Regions from separate parts of the Homo sapiens genome. Here region 1 is linked to region 2. The links come from fine-mapping of genetic effects on gene expression. A gene starts in region 2. The other region holds a variant in brackets. All regions are shown on one strand. Distances are between the middles of the regions.

Region 1 (9,674 bases), 47 kb after region 2:
CTGGTCTTGAACTCCTGACCTCGTGATTCACTCACCTTGGCCTCCCAAAGTGTTGGGATTACAGTCCTGAGCCACCGTGCCTGGCCAGTGCCCTTAAAGTTTATTTGATTAGAGAATCAATTTTAGAAACCCAGAATCAATTCAGAAAACTCATCTATAACATTCTTTGTTATACAGCCACTAACAGGACCAATATCTGTGTCAGTCAAAATTCGACCAGAGAAACAGAACCAGTTTTCAAGGAAATTGACTTACACAATTGTGGGGACTGACTAGGCAGGAAAGAAATTTGTAGGGAAAGGTAAGCTGACACTCTCAGGCAGGAGCTAAAGTTGCTCTCCAGTCCCACCCGCATTACAGTGAATAATCTGTTTTGGGTAAAGCCAATTGATTTTATATATTAATCACACATGCAAAATGCATTTATAGCAACACTTGCATTCATGTTTGATGGATGAACTGCAGAGCTTAGACTAACTAACTTGACATATGGCCAGACCACCACATTGATGATGGGATAAAATACTTTTCAGGAAAAGCTGCGGAGAATGTGAAACGTATAAAGTAAGGCGAGACTCTCCATTTGTGAAATAACATGGCCAAGCCAAAATAATTAAGAAATAAAAGAACCTGAACTCAGAGAAGAAAATGCTTAAATATGTGGAAACTAGAGAGCAGAAAACCAAAGTCATATTTGGAAAAGTATCATGATAGACGAAAAATTACGTAGTAGAATCTGTACTTCTACTTAAAATTCATCTTACCCTTAATCTAATTACTTCAAAATCCTTTTAAGTGGTGTTAAATATTTAATGAAGGGATTCAGTAGAAAGGTATTTAAGAAATGGGTGTGGCCAGGCTCAGTGGCTCATGCCTGTAATCCCAGCACTTTGGGTCCGGAGGGGGGCGGGTCACCTGATGTCAGCAGTTTGAGAGATGGGTGGGCCACCCTGCGTTTTTTTGTATCTTGTGTCCCTGGCAGTTGTTCTGTGAAGTCACTAGACTCTGGAATCCAGGCCTCCCTTCCCAGTATGGATTTGGCCAAAAGTTCAAATGGTAAGTTCCTATCAGCCTGCTGGCTGTTCTCTGTGTTGATGCTAAAGGGCTTGTTTTCTAGAGTTTATGATAGTTTAAGTCACAGCTGGAGGCAGTGGCTCGAGCCTGTAATCTCATCACTTCGGGAGGCTGAGGTGGGAGAATCACCTGAGGTCAGGAGTTCCAGACCTGGCTGACCAACATGGTGAAACCCTGTTTCTACTAAAAATACAAAAATTAGCTGGGTGTGGTGACAGAAACCAGTCATCCCAGTTACTTTGGAGGCTGAGGCAGGAGAATTGCTTGAATCTGGGGAGCAGAGGTTTCAGTGAGCCGAGATCGTGCCACTGCACTCCAGCCTGGGCAACATAGCAAGACTCTGTCTCAGAAAAAAAAAAAAAAAGAATAGGAGAAGCTGAGTCTCATGGGGAAAAATCTGCCTATTTGCATGTCATGTACATTCTATAATTTTTTAAAAAGTCAAGTTGAGTTTTAGGAATACCTAGACTGATAGGTGGAAGAAAAAGAAACAATTATAGTTTCCACCAAAGTTTATTTATTTGTGCATTCTATCCCATAATCAAAATCTAATTGCAAAATCAAATACTTTATTCACTGAAAAGATTAAGTAAAATCGTGAAATTCTTATTGAGGTGTATTTGACTAAAATGGTGCTATGATTTGTTTGTCCTCTCTGAAATTCATGCTGAAACTTAGTCTGCAAAGTAACAGGATTAAGAGGTGGGTCCTTTAAGAGATAATTGGATCATGAGGTCCCTGCCTTCATGAATGGGTGAATCCATTCCTGAGTGAGTGGGTTAATGGGTGAGTAGGAATAATGGGGAGTGAATTATCATGAGAGAGGGTCTGTTATAAAAGCCTGTTCGGCTCTGTCTCCTGCGAACTTCCCTCCATGTGATGCTGTCCACCATGTTATGATGCAGGATGAGGCCCTTGCCAGAAGCCAACCAGCTGTAGCCCGTGGACTGTGGACTTCCCAGACTCCAGCACTGTAAGAAATAAATTTCATTACATGGACGTATTACATGATGAAAAAAAAAAAAAAAAAAAGGCGGGCGCGGTGGCTCATGCCTGTAATCACTGCAGCCCTGACTCTCAGCCTCAAGTGATCTTCTCACTCCAGCCTCCTGAGTAGCTGGGACTACAGGTCGCACCACCACACCAGCTAGTCGTTTTATTTTTTGTAGAGATGGGGTCTTGCTGTGTTGCCAGGGCTGGCCTCAAACTCCTGGGCTCAAGTGATCCTCATGCCTCGACCTCCCAAAGTGCTGGGATTATGGGTATGAGGCACCATGCCCCACCAGATAAACTTTAAGTAGTGATTTGGCATATACTAGGGACATTCCCTTGATTCTAAAAGGACATCTGAACCCATTGGGAAACATCTTTCTTTCATCTGGATCATCGTGTTTCTTCTCTGAAGAACAGCTGGTGCTTTGGTCTCTACCCTTGGGTGTAGGCCTAGTGATGTAAAGTAATCTTCAGACATCTCTTTTTCTTGGTTTTATGTTTTGTTCTTGTTGTTTTATTTATTTTTATTTTTTCTTTTTTTTCTTTTAATAATGGAAATGTGTCCAGATGCAAATTCAAAGTTACTGCCTTAAGAATACCAGCCCTGTCAGTGCCAGTGGGAAATCTGGTTCTGTTTTTTTTTTTCTGAGATGGAGTCTCCCTCTGTTTCCCAGGCTACAGTGCAGTGGCAAGATTTCGGCTCACTGAAAACTCTACCTCTTGAGTTCAAGCGATTCTCCTGCCTCAGCCTCCCACGTAGCCGGGATTACATATTTTTAATATATATATACATATTATATATATATTTATATTACATATATTTATATTTATAATATATTATATATAAATATATATTTATATATAATGTATATAAATATATGTTTATATTTATAAAATATATATTTATATTATGTATATATATTTTATATATATATATATATATATATATGTAGAACTCCTAGGTTCAAGCAGTGTGCTGCCTTGGCCTCCTAAAGTCTTGGGATCACAGGCTGAGCTACTGCGTCCAGCCTACGTCTTTCTTTATTTAGTTCAATTGTGTCTCCCTCTGTTTCTGCACATCACGTGACCACCTGAGCAAACATCTCCCCATGATCTTCGATGGGATAGTGAATCTTGTTTTATTGGTGTACCTCTTTAGGCTTTGAACCTGAGAGAATGACAAGCGTCTTAGAATATTTCATTTAGAAAATAAATTTTGTGCTCTTCCAATGTTCCAGGAAGTTTACTTCTGTTGAAAAAAGGGCCATAAGATGCAATTATAATAAATGTATTTCTGGGAATGTAGAGAAATACTTTTATAAGACTCTGTTCTAGATCTGGCACGTCATTGATGTCATCATTGCCCAACTGCTTTCTAGGACACTGGAGTCGAAGGCCGTGAGTCAGCCATGATGGCAGCTGAAGAAATTAATGAGGACTATCCAGTAGAAATTCACGATTATTTGTCAGCATTTGCGAATTCCATTGATGCTGTGGATGAGATGCTGAAGAACATGATGTCTGTTTCTAGAAATGAGTTGTTGCAGAAGTTGGACCCACTTGAACAAGCAAAAGTGGATTTGGTTTCTGCATACACATTAAATTCAATGTTTTGGGTTTATTTGGCAACTCAAGGAGTGAATCCTAAGGAACATCCAGTAAAGCAGGAATTGGAAAGAATCAGAGTATATATGAACAGAGTCAAGGAAATAACAGACAAGAAAAAGGCTGGCAAGCTGGACAGAGGTGCAGCTTCAAGATTTGTAAGAAATGCCCTCTGGGAACCAAAACCGAAAAATACATCCAAAGTTGCCCATAAAGGAAAAAGTAAAAGTTAACTTTTTGGATTTGATGTACACATATTCAAAAAGTACATCTCTTTTTTTCCCACAAAGTAATTCTGTGACAGAGCAAGGTTTAAATGTATTCCTTGTTGAATTAATATGTAAATTTACAGTAAATTTGTAAAGCTCAATACTTTCCTCTCCAAAGGTTGTTATCTTTATTGATTTGCACTATGAGGATTTTAACATTGTGATATATTTTATATTTACAATTTACCATCTCTTTTGAAGAGACTCTTATTTCTTTATGTAGGTCAGTCTTGCAGGTAGCATTTTCTTAGGAACTGTGAAATTTAAGTGAAATGTTCTTTGAAAATATTTGTACTATTTTCAATGAAATAACACACTTATGCCATCCACAGACACATATAAAATACTCAATAAAGGCCATTTAATGTAGCTGATTGGATGCAGTTCCAGATACAGTTAGCTACTTCCCCAATTCACTGTCTATTTCTTCTTTCTCTTATTTATTTTGAGCTCATCAGTTGTAGCAAAAGCACACACTATTTTTCCTCTGTAGTAGTGTAGACAACTGAAATGATCTCTTGGTAGAAGTTTTAATCCAGTCATTGCTTTATTTTATTTTATTTTTTATTTTAGATTTGAAGTTTCATGTGCAGGTTAGTTACATGGATATATTTGCACATACTGCAAATCAATTGTCCTGAGGTTTGGGCTTTTATTGATCCTGTCACTCAAAAAGTGAACCTAGTATCCTATAGATAGTTTTTCAACCCTTTCCTCCCCCCCTTCCTTCTCTTCTTTTGGCGTACCTAGTGTCTTTTGTTCTCATCTTTATGTCTGTGTGCACCGAGGGTTTAACTCTGAGTTATAAGTGAAAACATGCAATACTTGGTTTTTTGTTTCTGCATTAATTTTCTTAGAATAATGGTTTCTAGCTGCATCCATGTTGCTGCAAAGTCTATGATATCATTCTTTTTATGGCTGTGTAGTATTCCATGGTGTATATGTACCGCATTTTCCTTATTCAGTACACCACTGATGGGCACCTAAGTTGGTTTCATGACTTTACTATTGTGAATAGTGCTGTGATAAGCATAGGAATGCAGGTGTCTTTTGGTAGAATTATTTATTTTCCTTTAGGCATATATCTAGTAGTGGGATTGCTGGGTTGAATGGTAATTCTATTTTTAGTTTTCTTGTTTGTTTGAGACTGAGTTTCACTCTTGTTGCCCAGGCTGGAGTGCAATGGCGTGATCTCGGCTCACTACAACCTGCGCCTCCCGGATTGAAGCAATTCTCCTGCCTCAGCCTCCTGAGTAGCTGGGATTACAGGTGTGCACCACAACGCCCAGCTAATTTTGTATTTTTACTAGAGATGGGGTTTCTCCACGTTGGTTAGGCTGGTCTAGAACACCTGACCTCAGGTGATCTGCCCACCTCCACCTCCACCTCCCACAGTGCTGGGATTGCAGGGATGAGCC[A/G]CCACGCCCGGCCAGAGCAGCCTCTTTCATCACGTGCTTACTGGGTCCCAAGTGGAAGTGCCCCTGCCTCATCTGCAACAGTGCACTGGGGAGGGGAAATGAGAGGCAAGAGATGACACCCTCTCCATGTCCATTCCCAGGCTCTTATGGTGACTCCTTCAGTGACTAGTGCTGTGGCCATGTTTCTTTTGTTCCAAAGGTGGCTTTGGTGGGCTGCACTCCCCCAACCTTGAGGGGACTGCACAGAGGGTTATGACACCAAGGGATCCGCAACTCCCCAGTGACATCTCTGTGGTCCCCTGTGCTTCCTAGAGTCAAGTGGGTTGTGGGGTATGTCTGTGGGCAGTTAGGCAATGCAGTGGCACCAGTGGTGTACAACTGTTATGCTACCTGTGACCTGGGGTTATCAGCCCTGCATGTGGCCGTGAGGCCTGCCCAGCTCATGCTCTCCTGACCTGGTGAGTCTCCCTCTGGCATTCGCAGTGGCAGCAGGCCCAACTGGCTAGGCTTGGGAGGCAGAGGTTGCAGTGACCCGAGTGCACTGCACTCCAGTGTGGGCGACAGAGCAAAACTTCTTCTCAAAAAAATAAAATAAAATAAAATAATCAAGTCAAATAAAAAAAACTATAAGCTACATTTCTCCCAAAGTCAGCAGCTTGATCTATGTCCAGGAATGACTGAACATAGCTTGGAGGTTAGAAACAAGATAGAGTCAATTATGTCAGACTCAAATTACTGTCATAATTTTGCAAAGGTGGTTTCAAAAGGTGGCCCTGTCTTTGGAGCCAAAAATGGGGAGTTAGTGCCTAGAGGCAGAATTGGGATTGGCTTGTCATTACTTGAGATTGTATTTTAGCTTTGGAGAGAAAGGTCTGAGCCTGGTTCTGGTGGGAATGTTGGGCCTCATTCCCTAGCAGGAGCAACTGGGACTTTGTGCAAGTTGGGAGTCTGAAATGAAGCTCTAAGGATGACCCCAAGCTCTCCAGAGGAGAAGGACGTCTTGTGGCTGAAAGTGACACTCAAATGAAGATGATGGGAGCCAAGGGGCCATGGTGGGGTGAGAGAAGAGCAGTCATGCCTTCCTCTTTCCAGGAGAGGGCAGCTCTAGACAAACATCCTGTTTGTACCTCTGAGCTAAGATGGCTTCTGAAACCAGAGCCGAGACACGTGGCTGGAAATCTCCTGCCAGCTGCTTGAAAGGGGCACCCTACAGAGACCACTGGCTTTGGGCTTAGAAACTACCCAACTGAGACACAGTTATTTTCAACCAGTGAGGTCTGAACCAGTTTCAATCCTCATTTGCATGTACAGACCATATTGACGTCTAGGGCAGGACCTTTCCCTAGACCTCTTTTTGTTCTTTGGAGCTCAATTTTTGTCTTACACTGGAGCCTGTGTCTCCCCGATCCATAGATCTTTTTGTTTATTTATTGTTATAGACAATAAAGCCTTTAGGCCGGGTGCAGTAGGTCATGCCTGTAATCCCAGCACTTTGGAAGGCTAAGGCGGGCAGATCACTTGAGCTCGGGAATTTGAGACCAGTCTGGACAACATGGTGAAACCCCATCTCTACAAAAAATATAAAAATTAGCCTGGTGTGGTGATCCATGCCTATAATTTCAGGGGCTCAGGAGGCTGATGCTGGAGAATTGCTTAAGCCCAGGAAGCAGAGGTTGCAGTGAACCAAGAACGTGCTGCTGCACTCCAGCCTAGGTGAGAGTGTGAGACCTGGTCTCAAAAAACGGAAAAAAAAAAAAAAAAGAAAAAAAAAAGGGCTTTTTCTTTTTCTTTCACTGACCTCATGGTCTCTTGCTAACAGGAGTTGATAATTTGTGTTTGGTTCCAAACAAAGGAGTATGTACCCCACACAGAGTCTCCAGGGCTCACAGCGTAGTCCCTCCACTCTCCAACCAGCTCCAGCTGGAAACCAAGGTTGGAGAGAAGTAGAAGGGTGGCAGGTGGCAGTCCAGGTGCAGTGGGGAGCCTGCTGTGGGGATATGGATAGTTTGGATAGTCCCTGGTCATCTCATGGTGTCTCCTTAAAGGAACTAGCCTGCCCCTCTGCGGCCTCCCCTGTCCAGTTGGAGTCCAGATATGCACAGCTTTCAGGTGAATAAAATATTCACTCTTTTGAAAAGTGGGTTATAGTTCTTAGCTCAGATATGATGTGGCCAAGAGAAATTCCTATAGGAAATTTCACTGGTGTTTCTATCAACTTACAGTGCTCCATCTGGATCTTAGATCTTCTGTCACTATATGCCCTTGGTAGCCCATCACAACAATAGTTGAAATGTCAGCTGTAGATGTGTTGATTTCTTCAAGAATAGGAGAAGCCATTTTGGGAGGCTGAGGTGGGCAGATCGTTTGAGGTCAGGAGTCTGAGACCAGACTGACCAACATGGTGAAACCCAGTCTCTAATAAAAATACCAAAAAATTAGCCAGGCGTGGTGACCTGTGCCTGTAATCCCAGCTACCTGGGAAGCTGAGGCAGGAGAATTGGTTGAACCTGGGAAGCGGAGGTTGCAGCGAGCCAAGATCATGCCACTGCACTTCAGCCTGGGCAACACAGCAAGACTCTGTCTCAAAAAAAAAAAAAAAAAGAACAGGAGAAGCTGAGTCTCATGGAGTAATATCTGCCTGTTGCCATGTCCATTCTATAATTTTTTAAAAAGTCAAGTTGAGTTTTATAAACACCTAGACTGATAGGTGGAAATAAAAAGAACTATTGTGGTTTCTACAAAAGTTTATTTCTTTGCACATTCTATCCCATAATCAAAATCTAATTGCAAAATCAAATACTTTATTCACTGAAAAGATTAAGTAAAATGGTGAAATTCTTATTGAGGTGTATTTGACTAAAATGGTGCTATGATTTGTTTGTCCTCTCTGAAATTCATGCTGAAACTTAGTCTGCAAAGTAACAGGATTAAGAGGTGGGTCCTTTAAGAGATAATTGGATCATGAGGTCCCTGCCTTCATGAATGGGTGAATCCATTCCTGAGTGAGTGGGTTAATGGGTGAGTAGGAATAATGGTGTGTGAATTATCATGAGAGTGGGTCTGTTATAAAAGCCTGTTCGGCTCTGTCTCCTGCGACTTCCCTCCATGTGATGCTGTCCACCATGTTATGATGCAGGATGAGGCCCTTGCCAGAAGCCAACCAGCTGCGGCCCAGAGACTGTGGACTTCCCAGCCTTCAGCACTGTAAGAAATAAATTTCATTACATGGACGTATTACATGATGAAAAAAAAAAAAAAAAAAAGGCCAGGCACGGTGGCTCATGCCTGTAATCACTGCAGCCCTGACTCTCAGCCTCAAGTGATCTTCTCACTCCAGCCTCCTGAGTAGCTGGGACTACAGGTCGCACCACCACACCAGCTAGTCGTTTTATTTTTTGTAGAGATGGGGTCTTGCTGTGTTGCCAGGGCTGGCCTCAAACTCCTGGGCTCAAGTGATCCTCATGCCTTGACCTCCCAAAGTGCTGGGATTATGGGTATGAGGCACCATGCCCCACCAGATAAACTTTAAGTAGTGATTTGGCATGTACTAGGGACATTCCCTTGATTCTAAAAGGACATCTGAGCCCATTGGGAAACATCTTTCTTTCATCTGGATCATCGTGTTTCTTCTCTGAAGAACAGCTGGTGCTTTGGTCTCTACCCTTGGGTGTAGGCCTAGTGATGTAAAGTAACCTTGAGATATCTCTTTTTCTTTGTTTTATGTTTTGTTCTTGTTGTTGTTTTATTTTTATTTTTTCTTTTCTTTCTTTTAATTATGGAAATGTGTCCAGATACAAATTCAAAGTTACTGCTTTAAGAATACCAGCCCTGTCAGTGCCAGTGGGAAATCTGGTTCTGTTTTTTTTTTTTTTTTTCTGAGATGGAGTCTCCCTCTGTCTCCCAGGCTGGAGTGCAGTGGCAGGATTTTGGCTCACTGCAACCTCCAGCTCCCGGGTTCAAGTGATTCTCCTGCCTCAGCCTCTGGAGTAGCTGGGATTATAGGCACCCACCACCACGCCCAGCTAATTTTTGTATTTTTATTAGACATGGGGTTTCACCATGTTGGCCAGGCTGGTATGGAACTCCTGACCTCAGGCGATTCACCTGCCTCAGCCTCCCAAATTGCTGGGATTACAGGCATGAGCCACCACGCCCAGCCCTGGTTCTGTTTTCTTGAAGATGGTTTCAACATGACCCTGTGCTTGCAGGATTGGAATATCTCACCCCTCACTGGTGAGGGACAAATCTGTGATGTCCTCTTATTCATTGAAACCAAGTGCTGTGCCTTACAATGGCCCTGAGAGGATTGATTGGT
Region 2 (9,674 bases):
ATTCAATTAATTATTATCTTGACCAGAAATTAATTGGAAAGAAGCAATTTGGCATTTCCATAACCATGTTTTTCATTGTACCATACTTTCTGTATATGCTTATATAAAGTACAAACATAATTTTTTCTTGTATTCTCACATAGCATTAACCTATACTAGCATCTCCTGAGTGGGGTCTGGTTTGGGGGCTTTTAACTAGCATTGCATCCTAGAATTATCTGTGGAGCTTTTAAAAAGAGCACATTCCTATCTCTGAGGCAAGACTTACCCAATCAGAATCTCTGGGTCTGGAAACCAGACGTGTGTATTTTGAAAAAGCTCCTCAGGTGGCTCAATTGTAAAACGAGGATTGTGAGTCATCGGCCTAGGTCAGTCACTTAGCTCTTTTGTAAACTAGAAGCCAGGCTCCTATTCCTAGTCTTTTGATCTAGTTGGGGCTACCCAGAAAATTTGTTAAAAAATAACAAAAGTCATCTGAATTAGATAACTAAGTAATTGGTTAACCAACATAAACAAAATGAATGCATTCATCAAACATTTACTGGGTACTGCCTCTGCTCCAGGCTCAGTATCAGGCATGGGGATTCCGCTCTACCCTGAGAATATTCTCAGCCTACAAGTGTGTGAACTATTTAAATGTGGCTGCTCTCAATTTATATTAGCTACTAAGAGAAAGGCAACAAACACCTACTTCAAAGACTTACTTGCACAATACTATGGCATACAAGGACTCTCCCACATGAATCAGCCAGGCAAGCCAATACCTGAAACCAAAAAAAAGGTTAATCTTTTTTAAGGTGATAGTTATCTGCTGATGAAATCTAACACAGCAATCTCAAAAAGAAAAGTGCCTTAAGGTGAACCGACACTACTCTTAGATACCAAAAGGCAGCTGCAGGCCTTCCAGGTTTCCCATGAGACCAGAGCTCCAGTGTCCACAGTCCACTTGTGCAGCTCTCCTTACCCATTGCACAGGAGGGTGTGATGGTGGTCCACCAAGTACTGAGTGAAGGGGCCCAGGGGCCCAAGGTTCTGATAAGGGATACTCTGAGGCCAGAAGACAACCCACTGAAAGAGAAGCAGAGACACAGAATACCTATTAGGTCACTTAAAACCTGTTTTTTGTTTTTGTTTTTGAGAAAGGCTGTGAAACAGTAAAAAAATTACCACAGACCGAAGAAACTCTGAACAGTCATTTGGGTCTCCATTCTTGGCTTCTATTTTCTTTCTTTCTTTTTTTTTTGACAGGGTCTCACTCCGCTGCTGGGGCTGGAGTGCAGTGGCATGATCATGACTCACTGCAGCCTCCACCATCTGGGCTCAATCCATCCTCCCACCTCAGCCTCCCAAGTAGATGGGACTACACGTGTGTGCCACCATGCCCAGCTACTTTTAAAAATTGTATATAGAGATGGGGTCTCACTATGTTGCCCAGGATGGTTTCCAACTCCAGGGCTCAAGCAATTCTCCAATCTTGGCCTCCCAAAGTGCTGGGATTACAGGCATGACCTACTGTGCCAGGATGACTTCTATTTTCTAAAAGCAACTCTACTGGGAGACTTATGCTGAGGAAAGTATGTGGTTATCAGACTCAGTGCCCACGGTGGATGACTCTTAAAGTCTTTTTTTCTTCCTTTTCTTCTTTTGTTTTCTTTGTAGAGAAGGGATCTCGCTTTGTCACCCAGGCTTGAGTGCAGTGGCCTGATCACGGCTCACTGCACCCTTGACTTCCCGGGCTCAAGCGATCCTCCCAACTCAGCTTCCCCAAGTAGCTGGAATACAGGCATGGCTACCACGACTGACTAATTTATTTATTTATTTATTTATTTTAGATGGAGTTTCACTCTGTCGCTTAGGCTGGAGTGCAGTGGCACGATCTCGGCTCTCTGTAACCTCCGCCTCGCGGATTCAAACGACTCTCCTGTCTCAGCCTCCAGAGTAGCTGGGACTACAGGTGCATGCCACCACGCCCAGCTAATTTTTGTATTTTTAATACAGACAGAGTTTCACCATGTTGGCCAGGCTGATCTCCAACTCCTGACATCAGGTGATCCGCCCTTCTCGGCTTCTCAAAGTGCTGGGATTACAGGTGTGAGCCACTGCCCATGGCTAATTTTGTGTGTGTGTGTGTGTGTAGAGATGAGGTTTTGCCATGTTGCCCAGGATGGTCTCGAACTCCTGGGCTCAAGCGATTTGCCCGCCTCGGCCTCCCAAAGTGCTGGGATTACAGGGGTGAACCACCATGCCTGGCTGACTCCTATTAATACATTCCACCAAAACCATTATTTTATAAAAGATATTAGCAAATTTTGAGTTTATGTGCTTTGGCTAGTTTCTTTACTGCAGAAACTGGCTCCAGCCAAACCTCTGTTTAATTTAGAATTCCTTTCTCGGCTTTCCCTTTTTGTACGGCTAAAACTGAGAATGATCCACTGCATAGAGATGGAAAATAAGTGAGATAAGGTTGTGACATTTTAATAGCAACTGCTTAATCACATAAATTTTTCGTAATCTTAACTTTCAGCCTCTGTATTGTAACTTCTGTCAGCTAAGACTTTTCTGAGAATAACTCAACAGTTTCAAAATGTATTGTCCCATTCAAATCTTTGTCAAGAGCAGTACTACCTCTCTCACGATGTTGTTTCACATCTGAAAGTTAAATAATGCACAAATATCACTGCATCCTCCCAAACCAAAGGGAAAGGGGAGCATCTGCCAGCTCCACAAGATCCCAATTTGAAGTCCCCAAAGCTTTCCTCCAACTATATTCTAACTAGTCACAGACACTAAATCGTAGAACAGAAATGCACCTTTGAAAATTTTCAGTTCAACACCTCCATTGTACATATGGGGAAATCAGGACATAGGTTGTCAGATTTGACACCAACAAACAACACTGTGGACAAGACAAATCTCCAATCTCCAGGATCTATTGGTATACCCAAATAGCTTCGCCTTCCTTCAAAATTTTACCACCTTATCACTTGACGTTAGGAGTTCGAGGCCAGCCTCACCAATACCCATGTCTACTAAAAACACAAAAAAATAGCTGGGCATAGTGTAATCCCAGCTACAGGTAAAGACATGAGAATCGCTTGAACCTGGGAAGCAGAGGTTGCAGTGAGCCGAGATCGCCCCACTGCACTCCAGCCTGGGTGACAGAGCGAGACTCCGTCTCAAAAAAACACAAAACTACCACCTTAGCCCCCAACCTACTTTTCCACGCATCTTTCTCGTTATCCTTTAAACAGATTATTTCTCAGCCAAACAAACGTCGCTCTTTTTCTAGGTACAGCTTTCTTCTTGCTTCCACACCTATGTCAGAACAGTTATAGCCTCTTTATCCTCCCTTACCACTTAAATCCTACCCATCCTTTAGATTTATCCCCGTTTTCCAAACAATTCCTATTGGCTCAAACATTCTGCTTCGGAAGCCCTATTCTGACTTGGCAGGCCTATGGCAGTCTGTTAACTTGACTTTCCGCTTCGTGAGAGGCTTAGGCTCGGATAACCCGTTAGTAACCATGCAGAGGTGAGGACCCAAAGACAGGAACACTAGAAAGCAGAAACTATCCTAAGAGCCCACCGAATTTCCGCTTACATGAGTAACCGAGACAACCGTCAGATGCGCGTGCGCACAGGCCCCGTTCCCAGAGCTCCCCTCGCCCTACGAGGGCCCGGCGGGCCAAAACAGAGGCCCGCCCCGCCCCACCCCACGCCTCACCGCGAAGTAGCCCAGCCCCAGGACTGTGACCAGAGAGGGCAAGGGTCTTGCTGGACGGAAATAGGCGGTAGCCGCATTGCTGGCCTCCGACTTCACCATCCTCTTGAAAAACCCAGACACAGAGTTGGCTGGGAGCTCCCCAGCCGTCCCCGCCCCCATATAAGAAAAGCCTGGCTAGCCGGTTTCTCAGGGCCCTGGGCGCCCGCCCAAGACCCTGGCGGACCAGTATGCTTGCTCTCATTGCGGAGTCTGGTCCCCTCCCCTCCGCTCCTAGCGCGCGGGAGTCGGGATTGTGCTTGCACGACTTCCCCCGGCCCGCGGCCTGTGAGCCCAGGTCCTGGGGTGAACCGAGCGCTCGCTCGTTCGTCAGACCGTAGCGCTCCAGCGGCTGTCCTTACTGTGTAGTAGCCAAAGCTGAGGGTGATGACTGTGAACCAGAACAGACTGCCTCGCTGAAAGTAGGTCGCGCCGGCTGCCGTAGCCATGGCTGCAACACCTCCCCGGGAGCGCGCTTCAGGACACCGTCGAGCGCGAGCGCGGAGGCAGGGCCGGGGCCGGCCCGCGCTCCCTCGCCATCCCCGCAGGGAGAAGATGGTGCTGGTTGGGAAGTCCCTGAGAGCGAGTCTCCCTGTCTGGCCCCAGTACAGGGGCCTTGGAATCACACCTGGGCTCAGGTCTGGAGGGCTGGTCATCATCTTGTAGGGGAGACACTCCTGTCACTTTTCTGGGTTTAAGATAAAGATGTTCGGGCTGGCGCGGTGGCGTGTCCCTGTAATCTCAGCACGTTGGGAGGCTGAGGTAGAAAGATCCCTTGAGCCCAGGAGTTTGAGACCAGCCCGGGTAACATAGCTAGACTCTGTCTCGAATGAATGAATGAATGAATGAGGTGTTGGAATAAATTCCAGCAATTTGGGAGGCCGAGTCGGGCAGATCACTTGAGGTCAGGAGTTTGAGACCAGCGTGGTCAACATGGTGAAACCCCGTCTGTACTAAAAATACAAAAAATTTGCTGGGCGCGGTGGTGCCTGCCTGTAGTCCCAGCAACTCCAGAGGCTGAGACAAGACTCTCTTGAACCTGAGAGGTGCAGGTTGCAGTGGGCCCAGATCACGCCACTGCACTCCAGCCTGGGCAACACAGCAAGACCCTGTCTCAAAAAAAAAAAAAAAAGATGGTGTTTTACTAAGAGTCTAATTTTTGAAGTTCTCTGTGCTGTGCACCTTGAGAAATAATGCTGTCCTCATTAGTTAAGATGTTTGGAACTATACAGCACCATGGTTATGAGCAGGGACTGTGAAACAGGCTGCCTGGATTTAAGTCCTGGCTCTGTCTCGGCTATTTGTGTAAGCTTAGATTAATTACTTAGCCCGGCTGTGTCTTAGTTTCTGTATCTGTAACATGAGGATATGCCAGTTTTGGGAACCTCAGGGTTTTTAGGGTGGGTTAAATGAGTTGATATCTGTAAAGAAAGCACAGCAGTGTCTGGCCCATAGTGCTTTGTAAGTGTGGGTGATTATCAATACTGCTGAGCCTTTAGCATGTGTGCCAGGCCCTGTGCGAACTGTTGTATCATCAATGAGCTGTGGGAGGTATATGCAGCTGAAGTGTCTGATTAAACACTATTTAATCATAGAAATAGAAAATCATAGAAATAGAAAAACTATTTCACCTGGGCCTTAAAAATGGGTTACTGGCCAAGCGCAGTGGCTCAAGCCTATAATCCTGGCACTTTTGGAGGCCGAGGTGGGTGGATCGCTCAGGAGTTCGAGACCACCCTGGAGAACATGGTGAAACCCTGTCTCTACTAAAATACAAAAAATTAGCTGGGGGTGGTGGCGCGTGTCTATAGTCCCAACTACTTGGGAGGCTGAGGCACGAGAATTGCTTGAGCACCGGAGGCGGAGGTTGCAGTGAGCCGAGATCCAATCACTGCACTTCAGCTTGGGCTATAGAGTGAGACTCCGTCAAAAAAAAAAAAAAAAAGTTACTATACTGTAGCTGGTATTTATTGAACACCTACTATGTTCAAGGCATTGTTCTAAGTACTATACAATAATTAACTAATTTAATTCTTAAAACAATCCTAGGCAGTAAACTATTGTCCTTATTTCAAAGAAGAAGAAACAGCACAGGGTCCTGTCATGCCCAAGTGGGTGAGGAATACTGGAAAACAATTGGCAGCTGAGTGTTCCAGTTCCAGAGAGGGCACTCTGGAACCAACCAAGGTTCTCTTTCCTCATTTTTTACGTGAGTATCTTGGGATATAAAGTCTTAAAGAATGAATTTCAGAATATGTGAGGAAATCCATTTCCCAGGTAGACCACAGTGCTCTTGAATATCAAGATTAACAGTAACAATTGTAACAATTGGTGTTTTCTTAGTCCTTATCATCCTTGATCACACCACCCTCTTTATTCTTCTCCTCCTTCTGAATAACTCCTTGTTTTCTCAGCTTTCCTTTTCTTTCTTCTCTCCTAGAATAAGTTTTGCTTATTATCTTCTTTGTGTTTTCAGTACCTATCAGATTCAATTTTCACCTTCAGCTGACTAAAATAATCTCTTCAGCCCTCACCTCTTCCCAGTTGGTCACCTTTACCAAAGATTACTCACACCTCAAAGACAAGAAGTCCATTATCATTATCCACAGAGTCCATCCTCACCAAGGCTACCCTGTCTGTGGTTTTTTTTTTTTTTTTTTTTTTTTTTGAGATGGAGTTTTGCTCTTGTTGCCCAGGCTGGAGTGCAGTGTTGCGATCTCGGCTCACTGCAACCTCTGCCTCCCCACTTCAAGTGATTCCCCTGTCTCAGCCTCCTGAGTAGCTTGGATTACAGGTGTGCACCACCACGCTTGGCTAATTGTGGAGACGGGGTTTCACCATGTTGGCCAGGCTGGTCTCGAACTCCTGACCTCAGGTGATCTGCCTGCCTCGGCCTCCCAAAGTGTTGGGATTACAAGTATGAGCCACCTCGCCCGGCCTACTCTATGTGAACAGCACTTTCTTTCTACCTTGTACCCAGATTCCTTGCTTTGACTTCCCCCATATCATATAAAGATTGCAGACTAATCAGCTGTCAAGAGTTCTACTGATTGGGTAATACAATATCTAATCCTTCTAGATTAAATCATGGCTTCATCTCCACTGTCTCATGAGTCAGTCACTCCTTCCTACTTCCTGCCACTTCAGCCCACATGCAGTCCCTTTATTGAATCTGTCTGACAAATAACAGGATCATCTTTTTCAAGTACAGTTCTGATCAAGCCTTTACCATACCAAAACTTTTTTTTTTTTTTGAGACAGAGTCTCACTCTATTGCTCAGATTGTAGTGCAATGGCGCAATCTCAGCTCACTGCAACCTTGGCCTTCTGGGTTCAAGTGATTCTCCTGCCACACTCTCTCTAGTAGCTGGGACTACAGTCACATGCCACCACACCCAGCTAATTTTTTGTATTTTTAGTAGAGATGGGGTTTCGCCATGTTGACCAGGCTGGTCTCAAACTCCTGACCTCAGGTGATCCACCTGCCTTGGCTTCCCCAAGTGCTGAGATTACAGGTGTGAGCCACCATACCCAGCCTACCTTACCAAAAGTTTCAAGAACTTCCCCAATTTTAGGCTGCCGTTTTTCAGTATTTCTATTTAGGTATTAAATCTGCAACGAGGGAGATATTGGAGAAATTATTCATGCTACAAGAAATGTTGGAGAGGCAAAATGGCTTCAGTCAACAGACTACAGGGAGCTAGGTTTTAGTTTCATGTCTTCTACAACCCTGCTTGGAGCCCAGCCTGTTACTTAGTGTCCTATGTCTTCCAACTCCACACTATTTTTTTTTTTTTTAATAGAGACGGTGCTTCACTATGTTGCCCAGGCAGATCTCAAACTCCCAGCCTTAAGTAATCCTTCCACCTCAGCCTCCCAAAGTGCTGGGATTATAGTTAGAGGCTGTACCTGGCCACCAACAGCTCAACACTAAACATCTTACTGTTAGCCCCTCACGCACAGATAAGGAATCCAGAAGACAGTACCAGAAGATCTTTGTTCAGATGTGAGTAGTTTATGTAAATTCATGAAGAACTTACAGTCAACTGGATGTTCAGAAGGCATTCCTTTCTTCATTACAGTCACCCTTCACACACGGCAGGGGTGACTGAATTCTCTAAGGTCCAGGCACCCTACACTGCTGTCCCATCTGAATTGGCAGAGAAATATCTCATCCCTGGACATTTTTATCCCCCTGTCTAGATGGATTAGTGACCTAAATATGAAAAATAATGAAGAAAGTCTGGGAGAATAGTTTTACAACTTTTGAGGGAGGGGAAGGAAACCTTTTAGCAAGTTATTAAAATTAAAAGCCATAGAAGGAAAGATTGAAAATTTAACTGCATCCAGATGAAAAGCTTCATTCATATGAATGACACTGTAAATAAAGTTGAAATACCTGGAAGAAGGAATTCTCCAATATATGTAATTGACAAATGATTAAAGGATATGAATTGGGCATCCTCAAAAGAGAAAACTTGAGACCAAGCAAAATGAAAGGATGGTTCAATCTTAATGGCCCTATGGGATACGCAAAATAAAGCAAAAATAACATTGTTTTTCCTCATAAGATTGGCCTACTAGATATCAAGACACACTGTAAAGAGCTATAATAATGTAAAACATTTGGCACTTGACATGCAGAAATCAACAAATGGATCAATGAAAAAATAATGCAGACTCCAGACATGGATCTGGTATATACATATCCAAGCGTTTATTTTATAATAAAGGTAACATTTCAAATTAAGGAAGGAATAATGGATTATTCAGTAAATTATTTTGGGGCAATTAGTTATCTATTCCAGAAAAAATATTTTAAATAATACTGTCCACTCCCAAACACAAATACACAAATGATGCAGTATCAAGAGATACAGAGGTATTAATAAGTAGTCCTCCTTGGGGAGTTATGATGAGGTGGCTATAGGATGGACAAGTGCTGAGATACAGCAAAAAACTCCCACACCTTCCCAGGATTATAGGATGGGGGAAGGGCGACCTAAACAAATTTACAGAAATTTGAATAGAATATTGTGTGTCCAGGGAATTAGGAGAAATTTTTTGTTGCTAGAAAAAAACAATGTGAAGAAATTGAGTGAAGGAAGTTGAGGCTGCAAAGACAGGTGGAGTCCTGATCATGAATGGCATTTGGTATCAAACCGAGGGGTTTTGATTTGATCCCTTAGCCAAGGTGAGTCAGTGAAATTCTGTTTGTTTTATTTAATTAATGTATTTATTATTTGTAGAGACGAGTCTCCCTATGTTGCCCAGCTGGTCTTGAACTCCTGGGCTCAAGTGATCCTCCTGCCTCAGCCTCCCAAACTGCTGGGACTACAGGTCAGGCTTGGGCCACCATGCTGAGCTAATTATTATTATTATTATTATTATTATTATTATTATTATTATTTTTAATAGAGATAGGGTCTCGCTATGTAGCCCAGGCTGGTTTTGAACTCCTGAGCGCAAGCTATCCTCCCACCTTGGCCTCCCAAAATGCTGGGATTACAGGCATGAGCAACCATACCTGCTCTGTTTGTTTTAACTAGTGGAGTGAACATATCTTGTGTACATTGGATGGAGGTAAAATTGGAAGGAAGGAAGGAGGAGAAGAAGAAAAATTATTGAAACAGTATAATGAGAATGGAGAAGGAAAATGCTACATTTTTTAGGTAGGGAAACCAAGGAATCATTCACTCAAATAGTCAAGAAATATTTCTGAAGACCGGCTGGGCGCGGTGGCTCACGCCTGTAATCCCAGGACTTTGGGAGGCTGAGGCGGGCGGATCATGAGGTCAAGAGATGGAGACCATCCTGGCCAATGTGGTGAAACCCCGCCTCTACTAAAAATACAAAAATTAGCTGGGTGTGGTGGCGCGTGCCTGTAGTCCCAGCTACTCAGGAGGCTGAGGCG

What was found.
Region 1: its variant is fine-mapped to the expression of TMEM254-AS1 in iPS cells (HipSci, PIP 0.95).

Annotation. Positions count from the first base shown.
Region 1 is chr10:80,026,199-80,035,872 of GRCh38, reverse strand. It overlaps the pseudogene C1DP2. Among named protein-coding and RNA genes, the nearest start is that of TMEM254, 48 kb to the left of the region's middle. RefSeq lists an enhancer at 1-434. The variant A/G (reference allele first, on the strand shown) is at 5,360.
Region 2 is chr10:80,073,235-80,082,908 of GRCh38, reverse strand. TMEM254-AS1 (TMEM254 antisense RNA 1) reads left to right here and starts at 3,716. Exons shown (of 4, transcript NR_027432.1): 1 at 3,716-4,182. TMEM254 (transmembrane protein 254) reads right to left here and starts at 4,244. Exons shown (of 4, transcript NM_025125.4): 1 at 4,123-4,244; 2 at 965-1,068; 3 at 705-764. The coding sequence starts at 4,209.